2 separate regions of the Homo sapiens genome follow, and region 1 is linked to region 2. A link means that fine-mapping ties the variant in region 2 to the expression of a gene that starts in the linked region. Tissue or cell type: whole blood. Region 2 holds a variant in brackets; the other region holds the start of a gene. All regions are shown on one strand. Distances are from middle to middle.

Region 1 (10,265 bases), 50 kb after region 2:
CCAGCCTGGGCGACAGAGCAAGACTCTGTCTCAGAAAAAAAAAAAAAAAAAAATTACTTCCCATGCACTCTTTCTTAGGAAGTTATTGGAGAATGTGCTTATCAGGGTAAGATGGTAAACCAGGGAAGAGAAAGATAGGGGTTGAAGGGAGAAGGCTCCATTCAACATAGCAGACAGTCCCGGGGAATGATGGAGAAGCAGGTGAATCCCAGCCAGCGTGCAAATCCAGGGAACATGTGTAACATGATGCAAGGCAGGAGGATTCTGAGGAAATGGAACTGGTAGATTGTTTGATGCATTGGACCATATGAAAGATTTTTGTGAGCCTGTGAGCAAAAGACACCCCAAAACAAAGCAAATGAAAAAATGAGTGAATTAATAACTTCAGGAAAGACAAAAGGTTTACAAGAAAAGAAACGTGATCATTGAGTAATTTGGCTCAACAGAGAACAAGGTTTTCGTGAACATAATAATGTAAACTCTTGTTGTGATAACATTATGTTGAAAGATTACAGGGAAGGAAAGCTTATGGTAAGAGGTTAGGTAAGGATACTAAATCCTTATTTGAAATCAGTGAATGATGTCTAACACTGAAAAATCAAGAAAGAGCAGTATAAGTGTATTTTGCAGAAATATAGAGCTAGTGCCAGAAGAAACAAATAGAAGTTGAAAGTGGTAGCCTTTGGCGCATGAGACAGGGTGGAGGAGGAAATAGGAATTTTTGTTTTTTCATTATAAGCCTTTAAATACTATTTAACGCTTTGTTTACTATTTGCATATCTTTAATAAAAAATAAAATTTAATTTTAAAAAAATACATGAAAAACAGAAAGGCAGTGAAGAGACAGTTCAACAAAAAAAGAACTGCAGATGCCCCTTAAACATACGAAGAGATGTTTGATCTTACTAAAAATAAGAAAAATGCAAATTAAAGCTAAATTGAGATATTCTTTCTCATTTATCAGATTGGTAAAACTTCAGCGGTTGGATGACACCCTCTTTTGGTGATGCCGTGGGGGAACGCAACATGATTCAACCCCAATGAAAGAGAAGTTGCAATAACCGCTAAGACTGCAGATGCATTTGACTCAGCAAACCCCCTTCAAGAAATGCATATGAAAAAAACTCATGTTTCAGGTTATTCATTACAACATTGTTTGTAATAGCAAAATGTGGATTAGAAATAGTCCAGATGTCTGTCCGTAGGGGACTGTTTAATAAACTATTGTCAGTCCCTTAGTGGAAAGTAATTATTTTCTCAGTGAATAAAGGAAAAAAATGACATAATTTTATAACCAGCTTCCAGGCCCTCCAAAACACAGAGAGCTGTGTTGAAAGCCTCACAGACTGGTCGGGCGCGGTGGCTCACGCCTGTAATCCCAGCACTTTGGGAGGCCGAGGCGGGTGGATCTCGAGGTCAGGAGATGGAGACCATCCTGGCTAACACAGTGAAACCCCGTCTCTACTAAAAATACAAAAAATTAGCCGGGCGTGGTGGCAGGTGCCTGTAGTCCCAGCTACTCAGGGGGCTGAGGCAGGAGAATGGCCTGAACCCTGGAGGCGGAGTTTGCAGTGAGCAGAGATTGTGCCACTGCACTCCAGCCTGGGCGACAGAGCGAGACTCCGTCTCAAAAAAAAAAAAAAAAAAAAAAAAAGAAAGCCTCTCAGACAGAGAGACTCTTTGACCTCCCTAAACCTGAGCATACGAAGAACCCCTTTCAAAACCTCAGACACAAAGCGAGAGAGTGTGTCAGATTTAACGTCAGTCCTAGGTCTAAATCCCAGCTTGGCTACTTTTTATTTGCTGTGACACTCTGGACTTTGGCTCACCGTCGGTAGGCTGGGGATAGGACTCCCTGCCTTGTCAGGTTGTTGTGAGGGTGGAGTGGACTAGAGTATGTGATACAGAAGCTACAGGGCCTGGCCCACAGTAAGCGCTCCACAAACAGGAGTTGATAGGAATAGTAGCACCGGAAGAAAGAATCCTGTCTCCAGGACAGTATTCATTGTAGAAGGAAAGTCACGTTGAAAATCCCAAGAGAAGAAGCAAAAGTCACTTCTCTGAAGAGAAGAATTGAAGGAATTTCCTCTCATGACCAGGCAGTTTTGGGAGAGGCTCTGTATACACAGTCAGATGCCTTCACCCTCATGTTCTCCAGCTTCTCATTGCCGTTGCCTCCTCTGACGACCGGCAGAGACTTTCCCTAAGTATCCTGGATCAGCAGGGCTGGAAGGACCCAAGCCCAAATTCCCATTTAGGATGAGAAACCCAAGAACCAGAGAAGACCAGTGATCAACTCGAGGGCACACAGCCAGCGGGCCTGGTCCACAGCCAGGCCAACCCGCTAACAAAACTGCTTCCAGGTATGCATTTTATGATAGCAAGGGATACAAAAGGATCAACCTAAATGTGCGTCCCCAGGGCATTGAGCTAACTTGACTTCACTCACTCCTGAGAGGGGCTGCAGTCAACGTGAAAGCACGTGATCAAGGTTGGTGGAGAAAGTAATGTGTTTATATCAACCCATTTTGATGGCTGTGTTTACACTTTATATTTTACACACTTCCCATGGAATGAAGTCCCAGACCTAGTGGCAGCTTGCATTGCAGTAACAAGGATTTCCAGAACATACCCAGTCCCTGCTCCAGCAATGACCAGATATATAATGCTGAGTTTTCATTTCCTCATCTGTGAAATATCAGCCACCTTCATCATGCTGTTACAAAAATAAAATCAGATAACTATGTCTGTCTGGCACACAGCAGCCACTGCTTCCCTCAAACCCAGATATCCCCTTGTCTTATCAACACAGGAGACCTAATGAGTCCCACAGCAACCTGCTGATCCTGCTCTATGAATTACAAAGAAACGTTTCCCCCCAAGCACCTCAAAAAAAAAAAAAAGAAAGAAAGAAAACGCTTTCCATAATACTTTCATAGGTTAATCGTTTTCAATTTCCTCAGCCAGAATCAAGAGTTAAGAAGAATCTCATTAAGAAGAATTCTAAGGGTATTTCTTTTCAAGTTCCCAAATACTTTCTTCATTATCCACATTGCCCTTGCAGGCTGGTTCCCCCATGTCCATGCTGATATGGAGAACACTGGATCAGGTGTATTCACTGGGTTCCCAGCGCTATAAAATTCCTACCCCAGGGACGTGCTCATGGGAAACACTCAATAAGTCATCCTTAGCTGAATCAAGCAGAATCAGAAAAAGAATTCCAAGAAAGATATATTGAGCATCTACTTACTATATGCTAGACACTGTGTAGGACCCTTTTCACGCTCTTGTTTAATTATGACAGCCCTGAAAGGTGATCATCATTGTGCTCACCTTACAGATGATGAAACAGACATTCAGAGCACTTTGTGACTTGCCTAAAGTTTCACTGTCAAGAAGGAACCAAGTCTCCTGACTTCAGGCCTTCCCACTATGAGATCACCAGTTTATCGTAACTAGAGGCCTCTCCCATCTAAAGCATCTTTGTAACTGCTTTCCCTTTCCCCACACTGCCTACACATAAAGAAGCCCCTAATTTGTAACAAGTCATTTGACAACTCCAGAAGAGGGGCCACATCCTTTTTCTCTATGTCTGTTGATTAACAAAGACAACATTATGTTTCCAACACCAGTCAGACCAAGGGGGAAAAAAGTCCCCATGACTTCAGTAATTTTCCATCCTTTGGAACAAGGAAATATACACAAAAGGTTTACTATAGAATGTAAGCATTGCTTTTAAATGATGCCAATCTCTCTTTTAATGTGGCCTAAATCCTAAAATTTAAAGTGTGATAAGCCGGGCGCAGCGTCTCACACCTGTAATGCCAGCACTTTGGGAGGCGGAGGCGGGTGGATCACCTGAGGTCGGGAGTTCAAGACCAACCTGACCAACATGGAGAAACCCCATCTCTATTGAAAATACAAAATTATCCGGGTGTTGTGGTGCATGCCTGCAAATCCCAGCTACTCGGGAGGCTGAGGCAGGAGAATCGCTTGAACCCAGGAGGCAGAGGTTGCGGTGAACCGAGATTGCGCCATTGCACTCCAGCCTGGGCAACAAAAGCAAAACTCCGTCTCAAAAATAAATAAATAAATAAATAATAAAATAAAGTGTGATAGTGTCCTTTCTTATATTTTAAGTAGACACACAAGCCTTAATATATATGTAAACCATAAATATCATGGCCAACTGTTCAAGATTGGGCTCTCACACTAACACACCTCTTCCTTGCAACTTGCACCCAATTTGACTCTGGTCCTAGGCATGCTGACCTGAAATAGTTGCTGGCTGCGGCAAGCACCACGCGGTGGCAGGAGAATTCCTGAATGTCCACACACAAGATGACATCTGTCAGAGCGTTTTCCATTCGCAGGGTTTCCAGGCCATTCTGAAGAATTAAGGAGAGTCCCGCGTCGTCAAATTTGACCTTTTCCCCATTTAAGATCTCGACCAAGTCTCCTGTTTTCTGGGAGGGCTCATCTGTAGAAGGTGCCAGGGGCCCTTCCAAACTCTTCTCGACCACATCACCCATGGTCCAGGCGCCCCTTTGTCCTGCCATCAACATCGAGACTGAAGGAGCGCCCAAGTGTCAGGCAGGCCCCATTGCAGGAGCTGAGCGGATTTCCTGTGCAGGGCCCTCCACTTATCACCAGCTGTCACACACACATAACAGGAAGTCTCGCACTTTCTCATCCTGTTACTACAAATGCCAGCAACTTCTATTCTTCTTCTTTCTGTGAGTAATCACAGGGTTAGAAATTACTTAGAATAGGTGTGTGGGAGGGGGTTCTGGAAGAGGAGTGTCCTCTCAGAGTCCACTGTGAGTGCTGTGTGTTTATTTTGGTGCATCTCCCACCTCATATCCGTGAGCAGGAAGCCTCCGGTGGTGGCTGTTACATTTGTACTCCTAATGCTATCAATAACCCAAGTCGTCAATGAGGGGATGGACAGGAGACAGTCTATAATCCTCCTGCTTCACATTTGTACTCCTAGTGGCTCAATAACCCAAGTCGTCAGCGAGGGGATGGACAGGAGACAGTCTATGATCCTCCCACTTCCTCCTCCCAGGAGTCTGAGACCCCACAATGATCCAACAACCGTGCTTTGTAAACCATGGAAACCCCACTTATCCCTGACATTCTCATTTCTGGCGGCACTGCAGATCGTCTATCTTCATCCTCCTCCCTACCCAGGGGAAAACAACGTCATGGCAAACTTTCATGTCTTCCCCCACCAAAAAAAATGTCTATTGTTTCGAATATGCTTTGGGGGCACAGAAGAAATGGTTTCCAAAACTCCATCAACAGCATCTTCTCAGAGGATGAGTCAGGGTGGGTCTACACCGAATTGCCATAGCACGTCTCAGATTAGCCCAACATCTACTGACCGTGCATCTAACGGTGGATCCTGAAGTATTTTCATTACCTCTGCATGTCTCAGTTAAGTAGTAATAACTGTCATTATTAAAATCCCATGATATCCTGGGGAAGTTATAGGAGCGTATCAGTTAGCGTTCTCTCACGCCCAACAGTAATGCTTTACCAGGTTGCTAGGTATTTCTTAGCCCAGCAAACTTGACATCTAAAATTAACCATTACAATTACAGTCATACCCAGCATAATGATATTTCAGTCGATGATGGACTCCAGAGAGACAGAACCAAAAGGATACCTAGAGAGGCATAGCAGAGGGAAATTATTAGGGGAATTGGCTCACGTGATTATGGAGACTGAGAAGTCGCATGACAGACTGCTGAGAGCTCAGTTCAAGTCCAAAGGCCTCAGAACCAGAGAAGATGGTATAACTCTCAGTCCAAAGCCAAAGGCCTGAGAATCCAGGGGGTGGGGAGACTGGTGTAAGTCCTGAAGTCCAAAGGCAGGGGATCCTGGAGTCCTGTTGTTCAAGGCAGGAGATGACTGTATCCCAGCCTCAGGAGATAGAGACATCGACCTTTCTTCTGTTTTTGTTTTCTCTGGGCCCCTGGCTGATTGGATGGTGCCCACCCACACTGAGAGTGTATCTTCTCTACCGAGTCCACTCAGACTCACTAATCTCTCCTGGAAACAACCTCACAGACACGCCCCATGGTAATGCTTTAACAGGTTGCTAGGTATTTCTTAGCCCAGTAAACTTGACATCTAAAATTAACGGTCACAAGTACAGTCATGCCCAGCACAATGACATTTCAATCGATGATGGACTGAATATACAATTGTGGTCCCAAAAGATTATAATGGAGCATATAAAGAAACCTGACGGCCGGGCGTGGTGGCTCATGCCTGTAATCCCAGCACTTTGGGAGACCAAGGCAGGGGGATCACAAGGTCAGGAGCTCAAGACCAGCCTGAGCAACATGGTGAAACCCCCATCTCTACTAAAAATACAAAAATTAGCCAGTCGCGGTGGCGTACACCTGTAATCCCAGCTACTTGGGAGGCTGAGGAAGGAGAATCGCTTGAACCCGGGAGGTGGAGGTTGCAGTGAGCTGAGATTGTGCCATTGCACTCCAGCCTGGGCAATAAGAGCGAAACTCTGCCTCAAAAAAAAAAAAAAAGTCATGGAAAAATAATGCCATTCACAATGGTAATAAAACATATGTAAATGCCTAGCAATAACAGCAACCAGCAACATAAAGAAAACTAACAAACTTTACTAAGAGTTTCGAAAGAAAACTTAAATAAATATACCAAGTTCCTTTATGGAAAGACTAAATATTATTAAAAGGACCAATTCTTTCCGAATACATTTATAGGTTTATTTTACTCTAATAAAAATTACAAGAAAATTTGGAGTTTAGGTTTGTTTGTTTGTTTGTTTTTGAGACGGAGTCTTACTCTGTTGCCCAGGCTAGAGTACAGTGGTGCGATCTCAGCTCACTGCGACCTCCGCTTCCCAGGTTCAAGCGATTCTCCTGCCTCAGCCTCCCAAGTAGCTGGGACTACACGCATGCACCACCACACCTGGCTAATTTTTTGTATCTTTAGTGGAGACAGGGTTTTGCCATGTTGGCCAGGCTGGTCTTGAACTGCTGGGCTCAAGCGATCCACCCGTCTCGGCCTCCCAAAGTGCTGGGACTACAGGCTCACACCACCGCACCTGCCCCAAGTTTAGGTTAAATGTAAATGAACAGTATCAAGATAGGTTCAAAGCACAGTGGGACTATCTGTAAAAGGATAAACATTAAGTCTAGACTTTACAGTGGACCCAAAGTCTTTTCTCCCTGGAAACTACAAAATTGAGATAGATGTGGAATGTTGTATTCAGAAGCCCCGTATCTGAGTTGGAAATTGAGACTGCTTCCCAGTGTCAAAGTGATTTAGATCTTCCAGACAACTATGAGATCTCATTCTTACTGACACAATGGCAAACAACAAAGTTTCTGATGGTCTGTGATTTTTAGAAAACAATTTTTCTCAGTAAGAATAAGTAGTCACCCACGAAGGGTATCCTTATGACACATTTATAATTGCAAGGAGTCACTTAAGGAAACGTTATTTCTTTTTAACGTTTCATCTGTGTCTGACTTCCTAGCCTGATGAATGGGAGGGCAGATTTTTTACTTTCCGATCTGACCTAATCTTTGAAGAAACGTTGTTTCTTTTTAATGTTTCATCTGTGTCTGACTTCCTAGCCTGATGAATGGGAGGGCAAATTTTTACTTTCTGATCTGACCTAATCTTTCCTTTCTCGCCCTTTTTAAGATTAATAGTCATGAATTTAAATTGAGACCTGGCAGGCGGCCAAGGTCAGCTTCCAAAAGTTATATGCTTGGGCCAGGTGTGGTGGCTCACGCCTGTAATCCCAGCACTTTGGGAGGCCAATGCAAGAAAATTGCTTGAGCCAAGAAGTTCCAGACCAGCCTGGGCAACATGACAAAACCCCATCTCTACAAAAAATATAAATAAAAAAATTAGTCATATATGGTGGCATGCATCTGTAGTCCCAGCTACTTGGAAGGCTGAGGCGGGAGGATTGCTTGAGCCCAGGAGGTGGAGGCTGCAGTTAGCCATGTTCTCACCACTGCATTCCAGCCTGGGCAACAGAGCGGAGACCTTGTCTCAACAAACAAACAAACAAAACAAAAAAGCAAAAAAAAGTCATATGTTAAGCTGTGTTCAATGGAACTATGGAGGGTCGGCTGGCGACGGTGGCTCACGCCTATAATCCCAGCACTTTGGGAGGCCGAGACGGGCAGATCACGAGGTCAGGAGATCGAGACCATCCTGGCTAACACGGTGAAACCCCATCTCTACTAAAAATACAAAAAATTAGGCGGGTGTAGTGGCGGGCGCCTATAGTCCCAGCTACTTGGGAGGCTGAGGCAGGAGAATGGTGTGAACCCAGGAGGCAGAGCTTGCAGTGAGGCGAGGTCGCGCCACTGTACTCCAGCCTGGGTGACAGAGTGAGACTCCGTCTCAAAAAAAAAAAAAAAAAAAACTATGGAGGGTCCAGTTAGTTAAACTGAATCTGCCCTTAGACTTCAGTGTCAAGGTGAAGCAGAGATGAAGCCAGGTGAATGAAGGAGACTGAGGTAAGACAGGACAGGAGGGTAGGAGGAGAAAGGTGGGAATTCAAGAGGGTCTAAGATTTTTGCATATGTCAGAGCTGGGCTCCAGGACTCCCACTTGGCCCCACTGGTGGCCTCCTGCTTAGCTAAGAGGGCCTCACTGAAAGAGGTAGGGTCAACACAGATTCCATGCCATACCCTATCCCCAGCTTCTGTGACCTTTCTCCTATACATAGATATCAAACCTTACTCCCTAGTCACTCTCTTCTGCTTTATATATTTTAATGCTCTAAATCTCTGTTCAAAGTACGGTGTTGTTATATCCTTGCTATTGATTGTACCTTTTATTAGTATTAAATATCCCTGTTTATCCTGTTAATTTTTTTCTTTAAATAATTTTCTGATTTGTCTGGAGTTTCTATTGCCACTCCTGCTTTCTTTTCATTTACTTTTCCTAATATATCTTTGCCTGTTCTTTGTGTTCTGGGAAATAGACATCTTTTCTTAATGTTTCTGATGGTTGTAATGATGTTTCAACAAATAGTAAGCCAATATTTATCTAATTATCACAGCACAAAGCTTAGAGATAACTTGGATAATCTCCAGGCTTGGATAACTTGGATTATCTCTAGGCTCTGTGCTACAATAACTAGATAAACATTGGTATCCAACTGCTTACTTAACATCTACACTTGAGGGTCTAACATTTGAGGCATCCTCCAACTAAATACATCCCAAGCCAAAACCTGGATGGAACACACCAAACATGTCCCTTCACCGGGCTGTGTTTGGGTAGGGACACGTGAAAGAGATTTGGGGTAGTTGGCAAAGTTCAATTTCTTGACCTTAGTGGTGTTTACAACAGTATTGTGTGCCTTATAATAATTCACTAAGCTATACATTTGTTTGTATCATTTTCCATGTTTTATTTGACAACACAAAGGTAATAACAACCATAACAATAATAGTCAACATGCATTGATGCCAGCACTTTGCTAGTTAGTAGCTGAATGGGACTGCAGTTCCAGACTTCCAGCTCCTGAGCCAGCGCCTGACACCCCACCCCATGCTGAAGGAGCACACTCAGGACTTCACGTCTTCCTGATAAGTGTGAGGCAAATGAAATATCCACCCATGCCTCAGACAAGACCAGCTTTGCCTGCCATCTTGTGGCCTCTTTCTGGTTCCAGTTAATACCTGAGGGCCCAGAAAACAGAGAAGCTGCAGCTTTTACCTCAGGTCAGGGTTCCTCTGAGTATCCTCAGCTCCCAGGTAGAGTGTGCCGGCCTCTCCCAATCGCGGCCTCCCGCAGACGCCGCTGGCCTGGCCTCTTCCTCCGCCTGATTCAAGGGTGCCCAGTGCTCCCAGGCTCCTGCTCATCAAATGCCTGGCCCTGGGCTCCTCAGGCCAACTCCTCTTGCCAACCACATCCCGTCATAATAATAACGAAAGATAGATGCCTTCATCCAAAACAATGACACGGGGTCTGCCTGAATCCCAAACAGGAAGTTGGGAAGTTGCCGGAGGAGAAAGACAAGCCTGATGGAAGTGGTGAGCCCAAATATCAAAATCCAAGAACAAAGCAGAACCCAGAGCCAAGTGTTTTATAATTTCATCCAGAGGGGATTCTTTTTAAAAGAGCGGCATTAAGGCTTTATTTCCTCTTACAAATTCTGCGTACAACACACGCTTTCCATAGCATAATGTTTCTAGTCAACGTAATAAAAGGCTTGTCATATATGAGTTATAATTTTTTAA
Region 2 (10,265 bases):
GTCAGACCAGCCAACTCCCAGCCTCTACTTTTCCATAACAGTCTTTGTTTGTTCGGTTGGTTTTCTGTGCCTAGGAGCCTGGTACAGTGAGTTCCGCATCCTCCGTTCTTGAGGCTGGACCACGGCCGTAAAGTTTGTGGCAGGGCTGTTCCTTACAGGTCAGCAGAGTGGGGATGGGTGTGGCTGGACAAAGCCTAGGCAATGGGCTGGCCCTGACGGTATGGACAGCAGAACAGTGCCGGGATAAGGGTGAAGGGGTGGGCCAGGGAACCTGGAGGCACCATGAGAGCACCAAGCTGGCAGGACAGGATCTGGGCAATGGCACCAAAGACAAACTTTGCTGCTCTGCAACTTTCTCTTCAGGTGTCAGCCCTGGTTCCTGTCCCTAAACCACCTTCCCCACAGCTGAGGCACAGCCACCAGCACTAATCTATGTGGTCCTCTTTCGGAGGGGATCTAGGTGTTTCAGGGCAATGCTTAGAAAAAAGCACCGGCCTCCCTGAATTCATTCCCTTATGACCCTTTCTTCACTTCCGGGAACCAGGCCTCAGCCTCCACTCCGAAGCTCCCCTCGTCTTATCTGCAATGCTTGCTCTCCTGACCCAGTAACCTGTTGGGTGATTGAGAGGCTGCTAGGAGGACTGGACTAGCCGTGATCTTACCTCCTGACCCCCAGGGCTGGCACCTCGTTCCTTGGTCCTGACCTACGAAAGGCTCTCCTCCTGCTGGCTAAATTTCCTGGGTCCCTGCCTGCTGCCTGGATCTCCCCATAATATTCTATTCTCAATTTCCCATGCTACCACCCCAATCCACTTACCCTTTAAGGCACTGTGAGTAATTTACCATGTCACTTTGCCCTTTTCTCCAGGAAGCCATTCCTAACTTTGCACACATTCTCATAACCCTGAATTTCCCCCACAACGGCCCTTTTCATGCTTCATTGTAATTTACCGTAAGGCCCCTGATGGCAGGAACAGCCCTTTTTCTCCAGTGGATCCTCAGCACCAAGAATAGTACCTGGAGCTTGTGGGCATCTATAAACATTGATTAAATGAGCGAGTGAGCTGGGTGCAGTGGCTCACGCCTGCAATCCCAGCACTTTGGGAGGTCGAGGCAGGTGGATCACCTGAGGTCAGGAGTTCGAGATCAGCCTGGCCAACAAGGTGAAACCCAGTCTCTACTAAAAATAAAAAAGAAAATAAAAAAATTAGCAAGGTGTGGTGGCAGGCACCTGTAATCCTAGCTACTCGGGAGGCTGAGGCAGGAGAATCACTTGAATCTAAGAGGCAGAGGGTGCAGTGAGCCAACGTCGCAGCATTGCACTCCAGCCTGGGCAACAAGAGCGAAACTCCATCTCAAAAAAAAAAAAAATGAGTGAATGGATGAGTGAATGAATGGGCAAGCTAGGTAACTCAGTCTAAATCATTGTGGTAGTGAGCATCCACGATGGCCCCAGTGATCCCTGCTTCCTGGTATTCACATCTGTGTAGTTCCCTCCATGCTGTTCTAGAATTGGTCTCTATGACCAACAGATTACAGCAGAAGTGATGATACATCACTTCTGAAATTAGGCTATAAAAGGCACTACCAGCTTGCATCCTGATTGCTCTCTCAGTCTTTCTTAGGTCATTTGCTCTGGGGGAGGTCAGCTGATATAGAGATGCCCATATGGCAAGAAACTGAGGCTCCCAACCAGCAGCCAGCAAGGATCTGATGCCTGCCAACAGTACAGTAAGTGTGAGCTTGAATCTCATAATGAACTTTGAGATTACTGCAGCCCCAGCCAAGAGCTTTACTGCAACTTCATAAGAGACCCTGAGCCAGAAGCACCCAGCTAAACCACTCCTACATTCTGACACTCAGAGCCTGTTAGATAGTAAGTGTTTGTTATTTTAAAGTTTTCAGTTTGGGGGTAATTTGTTATGCAGCAATTGAGAACTAACACAATCATCTAGCTGATGGGCTTGGCTAGGGTAATGAGACCTGTCTTATAATTCAGCACCACGGAGCTGCCGAGTGGTGGCATCATTACCACATTGTAAGTTCAGCTACATTTGGCAAAATACTAACCCCAAAGCCATGACAAATGTCAATCTGAAGTCTGAGACGTGCCACTTTGTTGCAGACATATGGAAGTGTTTGCCAATGAATTGCATGCAACAATCAGGCATAACCAGTTTATTTTCAGATTGTTAAAAACAGAGCAGATAATTGCACCTTAATGACTGCTCACTGTCCACAGATCTTATACTAGGGGACAGAGTGAGCATATTGTTTCAGCAAAGCTGTCCTTGGGCTGGAGCCTCTGCTCCCCTTTCCCCACATCACACATGTCAGAGTAATGTTTGGTATAGATCAGGTTCATGTCTGAAAACTTAAGAGGCAGTTAAATGAAGAGGCAAATTTCCTCTGTCCCCAAAGTTCTCTTTCAATGAAGGTTCCAGCTACCATTCCCAAATCAAATGGAGACTGACATTTGCTTTTGGTGTGTTCTAAAATTTCCTGTTGTTAACACCAGTTTAGAGGATGGGCAAGGTTAGAAGAGAAAGATGGGCTGGGCACGGTGGCTCACACCTGTAATCCCAGCACTTTGGGAGGTCGAGGCAGGCAGATCACCTGAGGTTGGGAGTTTGAGACCAGCCTGACCAACATGGAGGAACCCCGTCTCTATTAAAAATACAAACTTAGCCAGGGGTGGTGGCACATGCCTGTAATCCCATCTACTCAGGAGGCTGAGGCAGGAGAATCTCTTGAACCTGGGAGGCAGAGGTTGCAGTGAGCCGAGATCGCACCATTGCACTCCAGCCTGGGCAACAAGAACAAAAGTCTGTCTGAAGAAAAAACAAAACAAAATAAAACAAAAATGGGAAAGATGATGATAGGACAAGAGGGTTAAAGTTTGGTAAATGAAGGGTACGGGGAGAAATGTGTTCACAGAGTAGCCTCCAGGCTCACACTACTGTCATCAGGAGTCAACCCAAGACCATTCCAGCAGGGAGCAGACTGACTCAGGGAATCAACTGGCAATGAGACCCCAATTAGGAGGTCATGGTGGCTGGTTGGTTGGTTCAGTTGTCCAAACTATAAAATGAAGATGAGAAAGTGCCTTGAGAAGGATTTGGGAAAATAAGGCCACAAAAACCTGAGACACAGTGAAAAGACTGGTTTTAACCCCAGAGAAGGAAAATGATTGATTGTGAGAGATGGAGCAACAATAAACGAACCAAGTGGCAATGGCAACAGCTTCCATTTGTGGGGCACTTAGCTTGTACCAGACACTGTGCTAAGCGTTCCATTCATTACTTAACTCTCAAGACAGTTCTATCAGTTGGTAGGTATTATTACCCCCATGTTACAGATCAGAACTGAGCCTTAGCATAGCTAAGTAACTGCCTGAGATTACACTGTAAATAAATTGTGGAGTCAAGATTAACACCCAGATCTCTGCCTGACTCCAAGCCCAGGTTCTCACCACTGAAGAATTTTCCAGATGTCAGAATTCTCTCTCCTCCTAAATCTAAAGCTTATAATGTCTGACTCTGCCCCCAGCACCTCGGAAATACAAAAGGCAATAAAAATATTTCATTGCAGCAATTTTGCAGAAGACAGGGTAGGGACCTTTTATATCAGAGAAAATCTTTATCATCTGCATTTCAAGGACTTAGAAAATAGGAAGCAGAAACAAAAATAGCAAAAATATTGGAAGTATAGTTGATCAAGGCACAGTATATGTTTAAATTGTTTTAAAGTGCTATTTATTTTAACTTTTAGGTTCAGCATGTGCAGATTTGTTATATAGGTAAATTGTGTGTTGTGGGGGTTTGGTGTACAGATTATTTCATCATCCGTATGATGAAATCATACATAAGCATAGTACCTGATAGGTAGTTTTTCAGTCCTCACCTTCTTCTCATCCTCTACCCTCAAGTAGGCCCTGGTATCTTTTGTTCCCTTCTTTGTGTTCATGTGTACTCAATGTTTAGCTCTCACTTATAAGTGAAAACATGCATTATTTGGTTTTCTGTTCCTGTGTCAGTTCACTTAGGATAATGGCCTCCAGCTCCATCCATGTTGCTGCAAAAAACATGATTGCATTCTTTTCTATGGCTGTGTAGTATTCCATGGGAGACACTGAATAAATGCTGAACTGAGGGCAGTTACGGAGACTGAAACCTGTCTGCAATTATATGCAGGCTGTCTGCTAGACATCCAGCATAGAATAGGACCTATGTGGTTTCCTAGGCTCCCCCCATCAATCCACTCATCACCCTTCATTTGTTAAATGTCCCATCTTCTCTGACACACAGACTGTTTAGCAGTACCTGGGTAAGACACAGACTGTTTTTGCAGTACCTGGTGCCATATCTGGCAAGGAATTGGTGTTCAGGATTTATTTGCAAAAAATGAAGGCATAGCGTGCTTAAATACATGGGATGCTGTTTAAGTAGTTTTTAGGGGGAAATTTATAGCATGAAAGCCAATATTAGAAAGAAAGTCTCAAATCAGTGGCCTCCACTTCCACCTTAAGAAACTACAGAAATAAGTGCAAATTAAACCCAAACTAAGCAGAAAGAAAGAAAATAATGATCAGAGTGGAAATAGGTGAAATAGAAAACAGAAAAACAATAGAGAAAATCAAATGAAACTAGACATTAGTTATTTGAGAAAAATCAATAAAATTGATAAGCCTCTAACCAGATTGATCAGGAAAAAAAAAAAGGGCAGACACAAATTACCAATATCTGGAATGAGAGATGTGACAACACTATAGATTCTGCAGGTATTAACAAGATAATAAAGGAATGCTGTGAACAACTTTATGCCAATAAATTCAGCAACTTATATTAAATGAAAAAATTCTTTGAGACACAAACTATCAAAATTCATTCTAGAAGAAACAGAGATCCTAAATAGTCCTATATCTATTAAAGAGATATACATTATAGTTTAAAAACTTTCCACAAAGAAAACACCAGGCTCTGGTAAATTCTACTAAACATTTAAGGGTATGTTTGCAGAGTGAATGAATGAACAGTGGATCTAAGGACAACAAAAAAACTAGAAAAGAACACACAGAAAAAGGGAGAAACTCTAAAAGAACCTCAGACAGACAATTCCTGGGCCACGTTTGGCTAAGGCTTCTACCAATGGCCTAATGAAGAAAGCCTGGTAGCTAATCCCAGAACCACTGCATAGTGAGATATATGTATGGGTGTTCATGTGTACAAACTGTTAACAAACTGTCCCTATATCATTACTTCCTCTCCACTAAATTTGTTCTTGTCTTTATAAAGTTCTGAAGAAAAATCTTCTTCAGGAATTGTTAAGGAGAACCAGGTAGATCCAAATGACATGTTTATTCACCGTTC[G/A]TAGTACCCATTTAATCATTCAACAAGCATTTACTAATTACTCATTCACTATATAGCAGTCTCAGGACTCTCTTCTAAGATCTAGAGATGTAAAGTGCAATAAGACATATTTCCTACTATAACAAGCTCCCAGTCTAGAGATATTTACATATAATAAATTCAAATCATTGCCATGCAGCAGTTGGTGCTGTGATGGAGCAATGCACCAAGTGCTATGAGAACACGGAGAGTGGCTGGGTGTGGTGGCTCACACCTGTAACCCTAGCACTTTGGGAGGCTGAGATGAGAAGATCACTTAAGCTCAGGAGTTCAAGACCAGCCTGGGCAACATAGTGAGACCTTGTCTCTACAAAATATTTAAAAATTAGCCGGGTGTGGTAGCACATGCCTGTACTCCCAGCTACTTGGATGGCTGAGGTGGGAGGATCACTTAAGCCTGGGAGGTCGAGGCTGCAGTGAGCTATGATTGCACCACTGTACTCCAGCCTGGGCAACAGAGCAAGACCTCCTCTCAAAAATAAATAAATAAATAAATAAATAAATAAATAAATAAATAAATAAAAGGAGAAGTCTCTGGAGAAAGTGATGCTTGGACTGAGTTTTGAAGTAGGAGTAGAAGTCAGCTAGATGAAGAAGAGAAAAGCATTTGAACAACATTCAGATTGACCTGGAGGCAGAAAAAGCACATCCACTTTGGGGAACCACAAGCTGTGCATTAGGACTAGAGCAGAAGTGGGAGGTTGGAGAGGACACTAGAGAAGCAGGCAGGAGATTAATGATGCAAGACCAGGCTCTGGGAACGTAGGCAGGAAGTATGGGCTTTATTCTGAAAGTGATGGGGAGCCAATGAAGAAGGCAAGCCCAGGAGCAAGATGATCAGACTTGAGTTTCAGATCTTTCAGCTGGTGAATAAATTGGAGGGAGGCCAGACTTGGGGGAGGAAGATGAGTTTTGAGAAATTTCCAGAAATTCAGATGGTGAGAGTCTAAATCAAAGTGATGTCAGAGTATATACAAGAGACACAAGATTTCACCAGAGTGGGCAAGGAAGAGCAGCACCCCCATGGAATAGTGACTAGACAGGGCACGTTCTTGTTTTTTTTGTTTTTTGTTTGTTTTGTTTTGCTTTGCTTTTTGAGACAGAGTCTCCCTCTGTTGCCCAGGCTGGAGTGCAGTGGCGTGATCTCGGCTCACTACAACCTCTGCCTCCCGGGTTCAAGTGATCTTCCTGCCTCAGCCTCCCGAGTAGCTGAGACTACAGGTGCATGCCACCATGCCCACCTAATTTTTTTGTATTTTTAAGTAGAGACAGGGTTTCACCATGTTGGCCAGGATGGTCTGGATCTCTTGACCTCGTGATCCACCCGCCCTGGGCCTCCCAAACTGCTGGGATTACAGGTGTGAGCCACCAGGCCCGGCCCAGGGCACATTCTTGTTTGTGCGTGCAGTGTGACCCCCAACCTCCCACCCTTCCACAACTGGGAAGAGGAAGCACGGGCCAGGCATGGTGCTGGGTGATTTCTACATCTCACCTAACGCGCTCAGTAACTGTCTGAACACGTGGGATCGGCCTCATAGATCAGGAATCAGGGCTTCTGGAACTGACCGACTCAGCAATGAACAGGGCAGTGTTTTCTCCTTAATGCCCTAAGGATTTTTGAATCCGCTTTGCTTGCATCTCTGTGAGCCCCTAGCTAACTCCTTACTTCGCTGGTTAAATATAGCACCTCTTATCTTCTACTCACCTCATTGCCAGAAAGGTGGTACATCCTGGCTTCCTGGAGCAGCGGGAAGACCTCTGGGCACTGCCTGATGAGAGGATCTGCTTCCACCGTCTCCACAAAGTACCACGGGTCCAGAAGCGGTAAGCGCACGTTCTCGAGGACATAGGGGAGTAAGCAGAGTCGTTCTGATGGCTTGTGCCGGACCCAGCTCATCACGGTCTCAAACACCTGAGCCTCCTCGGTCACGTAAAGGTCATCACTCTTCAAGATGTGGTGCAGAGTGTCCACGGGCAGGTCAAGAAACTCCTCAGAGTTCAGAATCTGCACAAAGTTTTGAATGATGTAACTCTGAACCTGCTTCTTTAGACTGTCCAGCGAGTGTGTGTCAGCCAGCCTCAGTATTCCAACGCAGTTTTCTGGGTTCAAGGCTTCAGTGAGGAAGCTGGCACAGGCATCCACCATCCGCAGGAACTGATGAAATAGAAAGGGTGGAAAGGAGGCCAGAAAATGGTGAGTCCACAAGGAGGTTTATCAGTGAGTTATGTGTATTAGCCAAAAATTGGAAACAACCTAAATGTCCAACAGTACAGGATGAGCTAAATACATATAATTCATTCATACAGTAGACTTAAAACAATGAGATACTTACTGGACGAGCTAAATACATATAATTCATTCATACAGTCGACAAAACAATGAGATACTTACGGGAGGAGCTAAATACATATAATTCATTCATACAGTCGACTTAAAACAATGAGACACTTACGGGACTAGCTAAATACATATAATTCATTCATACAGTCGATAGCTCTGTAGATACTTAAAACACATGTTGTAGAAAATATTAAATGAAATAGAAAATGTTCATAATGTATTGAGTTTTAAAATCTGTTCATTGGATCTGATTAAGCCTCTACATTTACTCAGCAATTTACAGGAAATACAGGGAAAGAGGAACCTGCTAAAGACGTCATGGGAACATGATCAGCAAAATCCAGATTGTGGAAAACTCTACTGAACAACTTGTTCAGTTTCTTCAACAAATACATTACAAGGGGATAAAAGAGAGAGAGAAGGAGAGGGAGAACCTAAAGATAAACAGAGATTTAAGACACATTGACCAATTGCAAAGTATGGATCTTATTTGGATTCCTGATTTAAACAATATATATTTTTTAAAGTTGGAGAAATGTTTACAATGACTAATATTTGGTGCTAATGAAACAATTATGATTCATTTTAGGTGCCATAATGGTTTCATGTTTATGTTGAAGAAGAATCCTTATTTTTTAGAGCTATAAGTGAAATATTTGCAGATAAAATGAGAAAAGCACGTCACAAATCATATGTACATTGTGACCTTATTTTTATAAAGAAAACATACACAGAATAAAGTCATAGAAAGAAGATGAAAGGATGTAGGTCAAAATATTAATGGTTGTTATCTCTTTGGGTTATCAGGTATCTTAAGGCAAATTCTGCTGCAGCAGCAAACAACCCTCACGTCTCAGGGGCTTACAATAAATGTTCCTCTTACCCACTATGTGTTCTTCACGGGGCTCTTCATTCCAGGGGCCAGGAAGATGGAAAGCCCTTACCTGAGACATGCTGGTCCCATGACAGAAGGGGAAAAAGATGGCAGAACCACACAGAGGCTTTTAAAGCTTCTGCTCAGAGGGGGCGCATGCTATATCCATTTACACAAAACCGTCCAGAGTAAGTCACATGGCAAAATTTGTCATCAAGGGAACCATAGTTCTCCCACAGAAACAGGTCTCATGGGATGGACAGGGAATATACTATATAAATAATAGAAGGTATGACACTCTAAGAAGACTATGAGAATTTTTCTGTTTTTGTTTATTTATATGTTTTATTTATTTATATATCCTTTAAAATGAATACGTACCGCTTTTGTCATTAAAAAATCAATTTGTAAAATTATTGATTGGCTCTCAGGTCCCACTTTTAAGTTATCACCATCCTCATAAAAATTCAAGTCCCTTGTGCTTGTAGGGCACTTTACAGATGACAAAGCACTGTTATATCCATTATATTTTGTAATATCCATTTTACAGATGACATGTCTCAAATGCATTGGTTCATTCTTATTTGTTGTTCTCTGGAGCTTAGCTTTGAACAATTTCAACCTCCTAGCTCCCTTCCCCGTCTACTGGACTCCTTATAGGGTCAAGTTCTTGGTGCCCATGGGTTGATCGATTAATGGGGGGAGAGGAAAGGGGAGGCTGAGGGGGCAAGACCTGGTGGGGGTGGGGGAGGCCTTCTGAAGGCAGGTCCTGGTGAGAGTAGGGACAGGACAGACCTGACTGGGGAGGGTTGGCAGGAGCTGTGGGGAGTGGGGCTATCGAGCCTGAAGGTTGATAGTGGGGCAGGACTGGTTCTAAGAGTGGACCAAGGTGACCTAGGCTCTGGACTTTACTCCAGAGCATTCCAGGGAACACATCCCTGACTTTTTGGATCAACCTCTATTGCAAAATATTATCTTTCTGTGTCAGATCACATAGGATTGTCAGTTTAAAAAGCATTTTTTAGGCCGGGCGCGGTGGCTCACGCCTGTAATCCCAGCACTTTGGGAGGCCGAGGCATGCAGATCACCTGAGATCAGGAGTTGGAGACCAGCCTGACCAACATGGAGATACCCCGTCTCTACTAAAAATACAAAATTAGTCAGGCGTGGTGGCACATGCCTGTAATCCCAGCTACTCAGGAGGCTGCAGCAGGAGAATGCTTGAACCTGGGAGGCGGAGGTTGCGGTTAGCTGATATCGTGTCATTGCACTCTAGCCCGGGCAACAAGAGCAAAACTCCATCTCAAAATAAATAAATAAATAAATAAATAAAGCATTTCTCCGAGGGTCAATGCTGAAGGGGGCCAGCCCCTCTACACCTGTGGGTATTTCTCGTCAGGTGGGACGAGAGACTGAGAAAAGAAATAAGACACAGAGGCAAAGTACAGAGAAAGAACAGTGGGCCCAGGGGACCAGCGCTCAGCATACGGAGGACCCTCACCGGCACCAGTCTCTGAGTTCCCTCAGTATTTATTGATTACTATTTTCACTATCTCAATAAGAGGAATGCAGTAGGAGAGCAGGGTGATAGTGGGGAGAAGGTCAGCAAGAAAACATGTGAGCAAAGGAATCTGTGTCACAA

The links. PIP is the estimated chance that this variant, and not a neighbour inherited with it, causes the effect.
Region 1: it holds the start of KLHL6, and the variant in region 2 is fine-mapped to the expression of KLHL6 in whole blood (TOPMed, PIP 0.94).

Annotation. Positions count from the first base shown.
Region 1 is chr3:183,551,089-183,561,353 of GRCh38, forward strand. KLHL6 (kelch like family member 6) reads right to left here and starts at 4,618. Exons shown (of 7, transcript NM_130446.4): 1 at 4,273-4,618. The coding sequence starts at 4,565. It overlaps KLHL6-AS1 (KLHL6 antisense RNA 1), which reads left to right. Exons shown (of 2, transcript NR_046687.1): 2 at 965-1,238. RefSeq lists silencers at 1,478-1,647, 9,587-9,636.
Region 2 is chr3:183,500,946-183,511,210 of GRCh38, forward strand. It overlaps KLHL6 (kelch like family member 6), which reads right to left. Exons shown (of 7, transcript NM_130446.4): 3 at 7,114-7,563. Among named protein-coding and RNA genes, the nearest start is that of KLHL6-AS1, 43 kb to the right of the region's middle. RefSeq lists an enhancer at 6,883-8,082. The variant G/A (reference allele first, on the strand shown) is at 5,370.